Linked DNA regions of Homo sapiens: region 2 is linked to region 1. A link means that fine-mapping ties the variant in region 1 to the expression of a gene that starts in the linked region. Tissue or cell type: whole blood. Region 1 holds a variant in brackets; the other region holds the start of a gene. All regions are shown on one strand. Distances are from middle to middle.

Evidence for each region. PIP is the estimated chance that this variant, and not a neighbour inherited with it, causes the effect.
Region 2: TRMT6 starts here. The variant in region 1 is fine-mapped to the expression of TRMT6 in whole blood (INTERVAL, PIP above 0.99). The same link has a PIP of 0.9 or more in neutrophils.

The regions. Positions count from the first base shown.
Region 1 is chr20:5,871,189-5,874,033 of GRCh38, reverse strand. No RefSeq gene overlaps it. Among named protein-coding and RNA genes, the nearest start is that of CHGB, 39 kb to the left of the region's middle. The variant T/C (reference allele first, on the strand shown) is at 1,737.
Region 2 is chr20:5,949,310-5,951,981 of GRCh38, reverse strand. TRMT6 (tRNA methyltransferase 6 non-catalytic subunit) reads left to right here and starts at 1,449. Exons shown (of 11, transcript NM_015939.5): 1 at 1,449-1,704. The coding sequence starts at 1,577. It overlaps MCM8 (minichromosome maintenance 8 homologous recombination repair factor), which reads right to left and starts at 1,330. Exons shown (of 19, transcript NM_032485.6): 1 at 959-1,330. RefSeq lists an enhancer at 1,314-1,453.

The DNA.
Region 1 (2,845 bases):
CCCTTCCCAGAGAATGGGAGGTGGGGCTGAAAGTTTCAAGCTTCTACTTATGGCTTGGTCTTTCTGGTCACCAGCCTCCACCTAGGAATCCACCAAGAGTTGCCTCAATAGAACAAAAGACCCTCCCATCCCCCAGGAAATTCCATGGTATTAGGAGCTCTGTGTCAGGACCTGGGCTTAAAGACCAAATATTACACTGCACTCCAGCCTGGGCGACAGAGTGAGACTCCATCTAAAAAAAAAAAAAAAAAAAAAAAAAAAAGACCAAATATTAGAACAAAAGATGCACTTGGCATGTCTTTTGCTCAGGACTTTACAATGGTTTTAGCAGCTCTGTGCGAGAAACTAGAGCCAGAGACAAATATGTATCTTTTATTACATCATGATATTGTAACCTGCCTCTCTTTTTAAGTATAATTACCTCAAGTATTTCCTCTGCATCTATTAAGCACCACAATAGATGTTGTATTTTTTGCCTCAGCTATCAAATATGAGTTAAGAAACTCATAAGGAGAAGAATAGTCTATTATATTTTCTTTTCTTTTTATCCCTTCTGTTGTTCTTTCTTTTCTGAACTTCCAGTCTTCTTTTGGCATTTCTTTTCTGTTTGGAGAGCTTCCTTTAGGCATTCTTTAAGGGTAGGACTGCTGGCCACACATTGTCTTATTTCTCCTTCATTCTTAAAATACAGTTTCACTGTATGTAGAATTCATGGTTGACAGTTCTTCTCTTTCAGCACTTGAAAAATGTTGAGCCACTTCATTCTGGCCTCCCTGGTTTCAGATGAAAAATCTGTTCTCATTCAAATTGGTATTTGCCTATAGATAATGCATTCCTCCTTGGTTGCTCTTAAGATTTTTTTCTTTCATCTTCAGAAGTTTAATTATAATGTGTTTTGGTGAGGATTTCTTTTGATCAGTCCTATTTCGGGTTCACTTAGCTTTGTGAATCTGTAGGTTTCTGTCTTTCACCAAATTTGGGAAGTTTTCAGCCCTTATGTTTTGAATACTTGTTTAGCCCTCAAATCTTTCTGGAGTCTTTCTGGGGCTCTGAATGTTAGGTCTTCTGTTATTGTCTCGTAGTTCCTTCCTTCCCTCCCATCCTCTACCTCATCCGTCTTCTCTCTGTTGATCAAATTGAATAAATTCAGTGGAATTGTCCTCAAGGTCAGTGACTTTATCTTTTGTCATCTCCACGCTACCGCTGAGCCCACCTGGTGAGTTTTTAAATTTTGTTGCTGCATGTTTCAATTCTGTGATTTCCATTTGGTTCTTTTTGTAACTTCTATTTATTTGCTGAGGTTTTCTATTTTTTCATGTTTCAAAGGATTTTATAACTGCTTACTGAAACTACATTATGGGAGTTGCTTTAAAATCTTTGCAGATAGTTCCACCATCTGATTCATCTCACTATCAATGTCAGCTGATTGCCTTTTCTCGCTCCAGTTGTGATTTTCCTGGTTCTTGGTATGACAAGTCATTTTCAATTGTATCCTGGACATTCTGCACATTATGTTACGAGACTCTTGATTCTGTATAAATCTTCTATTTTAGCAGGCAACCGCCCTGTTTAGGTTTATGGTGTCAGTTTTGCCTACTTTTGTGGGCTATAGTTTTAACGACAGTTGTGTTTTCTGAGCCTTCGCAGTGCTATTCTGGTCTGCTTTGCTCTTGGGGCTCTGCTTAAGCTCCTACTGGGTTGCTACATATGGTGCCTACAGAGGCAGAAGGCACTGC[T/C]CTAGGTTGACTGGTGTCATTATGTGGGTGTGGGGGATGCCCTAGATCGCCTTCTGCCTCTGCGTGAATGGCTGAAAGACACCAGACCTGCTGGCACTGCTTGTGCAAGTGAAGGAGCCTACCTGCTGTCACCTGGTGTGGAGCAGTAGATGACCTGGCCTGCATGGGTTTCACTGTTACCACTAATACGGGCAGATTGAGCCCCCTGCTGCTGGTGGAGATGGGATGTGAAGTGGGTTGGCCCGTTTGGATTCTTCTGTTGCCACTGCTGCAGGGATACTGGCCTGCTGCTGTCTGTGGCTGTGGAGTAGGGGAGTGGTTGGAAGCTCATTTCTGCTGGTGCTAGTGCTGTGAGCAGATTGGGTCCACCACTGCCACTGGGTGTGGCTCTCCTCACTGAGTTCTCCTTTCCTGGTCCCTTAGCCAGAGGGAGAAGACCCCTTCCCCCTTCCCCCTTCTTCCCCCTTCCTCCCCCTTCCCCCTTCCCCCTTCTTCCCCCTTCCCCCTTCCCCCTTCTTCCCCCTTCCCCCTTCCCCCTTCTTCCCCCTTCCCCCTTCTTCCCCCTTCCCTCCCCTCCCTTCCCTCTCTTTCTCTCTCCTATGCCTGTCTGTGGTTTCAGGCTGGCTGGTGTCCAGGATATATGGAAGATAAAGAAAATCCAGAAAACCAACTGTTGGGTTATTCTTCAAGTCCTGAGTCCCTAGTCCATCCATCTTCTTTCTGCCATTCAGAGTCCTTTTATGATTGCTGAATTCTTTCCGTGGTACTTGGTTGTGTTTAACAAGAAGCCAGAAAAAGTAAGTCTATAACATCTTCTCCTGAAACTGGAAGTTGCCTCAGGATTTTTACCACATGCTTGTTGGTTTAAGCCAGGGGTTCCCAACCTAGGTCTTCCAAATTCCAGCAGCTTCTTGTGTTTTGGTTGTGGGTCTAGAAGATGGTACCAAAGGGGAGAGGAAAAGCTGAACAGAAGTAAACCATGATTAAATCAAGTTTTTAAAAGTGCATGAATATGTGTGTGTGCACAATTTTCTTAAAATAATGAAGACCTTTAAATATATGGTGAAAAAGAGAGAGGAAAAAGGAGAGGGCTTGAGGATATGAGATAG
Region 2 (2,672 bases), 78 kb before region 1:
CCAAAACTGTAAGGAAAATAGTGCTCTTAAAAATGTATTAATAAAAAGGGAAAAATTAATGTATTCTAGGTTCAAGAGTAGCAAACAGGCTTGCAAAGTTGTACAGCTATGATACAAGACCCAAATATTCTGCAGTTAAGTTTCTAATCTCTATCGCTTTTTAAGGTATACCATAATAGTTTAATAACTATTAAATATGGTTTACGTATACTAGACGCTCACAGGTTAAAAATAAGGACAGGTACTGTACCTGTTTACAAGTCCCCATTACAGAAATGAAAATAGGACAGGTAATTAACTCTATGAAAACTTATTTGCAGTATTTGAGACTTCTTATTATAGGGCAGGACAGGATGAACATAATTCTGGCCTGTGAGACACTAGGGATACATCATCATAGCTTCTTACATACAGTCAATCCTGCAGTGTCACATCCATTTTTTGTGCAGTTTTTCTGTAAATCCAAAACTGTTCTTATAAAATACACGTCTACTTAAAAATGATTCATATCCTAAGTATACAAGTAAATAAAGATATACCTGTACGCTGCAGTGCAATTCATTATCAAATACTCTACCCAAATCCTTACTTAAAAGGGGTTTAGTTAATAAAACAAGATAGTAACTAGAAAGTTCACGATTTAACGGCATGACAGGGCTCCAATAATTAGGCATTACACATTATGAAACTGATGCTCAAAGAAATTAAGCAAACCGATCAAGATCAAAGTTGTTTGTCGACAGTACAGAGATAAAACTTTCAGCCTCCCAAGCTGAGGCGCTCCTTCAACAACGCTGCGTGCCATACCCTTCTCAAACGAGACAATATGCTGAGAACAGTAACAAATTCAAAAAAACGTTAAGAAGTAGGACTGGAGAAAGAGTAAAAAGAAACAGTTGGGTACCTGTGCTTCTTCAAATACTACTTTATTTACATCTCCTAAGGCTAAAGTTCTTACTTGCTTGGGACAGAGGTCCCAAAGCTCTCCTAGTTCACAACTGGGCCGGCTCCAGGATACGCGCAGATCTGTCCGGCCGGATTCTCCCTCCCTCCCTCCCGTAGAGAAGCACCACGGGGCTAAGAGTCTCCGGGATCTTAGCTCCTCAGGCGACTCCTGCCAAGTCCGCAGTTCTCTTCAGCCGCAGCTTTCCTGTCGTCCCCGCGCGGTGCTGAACCCCATCTGTCTCAACGGCTCGGGAAACTCAGTTTCCCCACCGCAGCTTCCAGAAGGTGTCTGTAGCGCACAGCGCCGCAAAAATGCCTCAAGCGAAAATCAGGTCTTCCCCTAAATTCTTTTTTGGCGCTTCAGTGATCCAACTTCCGCTCAAAGAAGCGGCAAGACGAGAGGGGCGGGGCGGAGTGCAGCCAATCAAGGAGTTTGGCCAGACGGAAGCCGAGAGGCTTCCGGAAGCGGTCTTGAGGTCTGGGCCGGAAAGCGGAAGCGGCGTGCAACACGTGGGGGCGGTGCCGGTCGGAGGGCTCCTAGTGCGCCAGGTTGTGGGAAGTGAGGCTGGCGGTGGCGACAACCGAGGAGGAGGGGCGGGACGCCGTGGAGCACGGCGACCGGCTGAGCGTCATGGAGGGCTCAGGGGAGCAGCCGGGCCCACAACCACAGCATCCCGGAGACCACCGCATCCGCGACGGCGACTTCGTGGTGCTGAAACGTGAAGATGTGTTTAAAGCAGTACAAGTCCAGCGGAGAAAGTAAGTCAGATCGCTGATTTTAGGGGTCTCCCGCCCCCACCTTGTAGATACCCCCTCCCTCCAGGTTTCTCCACAGAATTCTTCCGCCAGGGTGCCATTCTTGGCTCTCTCGGTCCCCATTCCCCGCCCTCGTTGTCTCCTCGGGTCTTTCTGTCACAGAAGGCTTTTCCACCAGGATCCCGTCTTCGAACCTCATAATCTCCCTTAACCCTCCTGTTTTTCCCGGAGCCCCCTCCATGATTTCATATCTGGCCGTCCACCTTCAGCATCCTTTTCAGTCTTTCCACAGAGTTCCTTCCCCAGAATTCCATTCTTGGCCCTAGGGTGCCAATGCCTCCCTCTCCACACCCTAATCACCTGTCCTGAAGTTCTTTCCCTAGGACCTTGGGATCTTCACTGTCTTTCCAGAGACACCCCCTCCTTTCTTCACTTTAGGATCTCATCCTTGTCTCCAGAGTCTCCTTCAGGTTCCCCCTTTTTTTCCACCATAGATCCTCCTTCTTCCCTAATCCCCCAGTCAGGATCTATCCCACAAAAAATGAAACGTCTCCTACCTAGTCTGGCTTTCTATCCTCTTCTCTACCCAAGCAGGATACACAGAATAGATGAAGGAGACAATTCACCACAGAGTGTGGAATCACTTTGAGTTTCCCTCGTTTTACTCACCAAAGGATTCAACGCTGGGAAAATTGCTAAAAAGCAATTTGCTCAAGGCCTCAGAACTCCAAATTAGGTTTGGTTTGTGCACCTGCTGGCTAGTATCGCTCTGTTTTATAGAAGTAAAGAAGTGGGATTTTGATAACTTTCTGGAAGGGCTGGTGAGGTTGTTAAGTCCTAAGAGCTTATTAATGGTGAAAATTTATTGGGATATTTGGATTAATTTATCTGAGAAATACAACCACAGTGTTTTTGTTTTTGAGACGGAGTCTTGCTTTGTCACCCAGGCTTTAGGGCAGTAGTGCAATCTC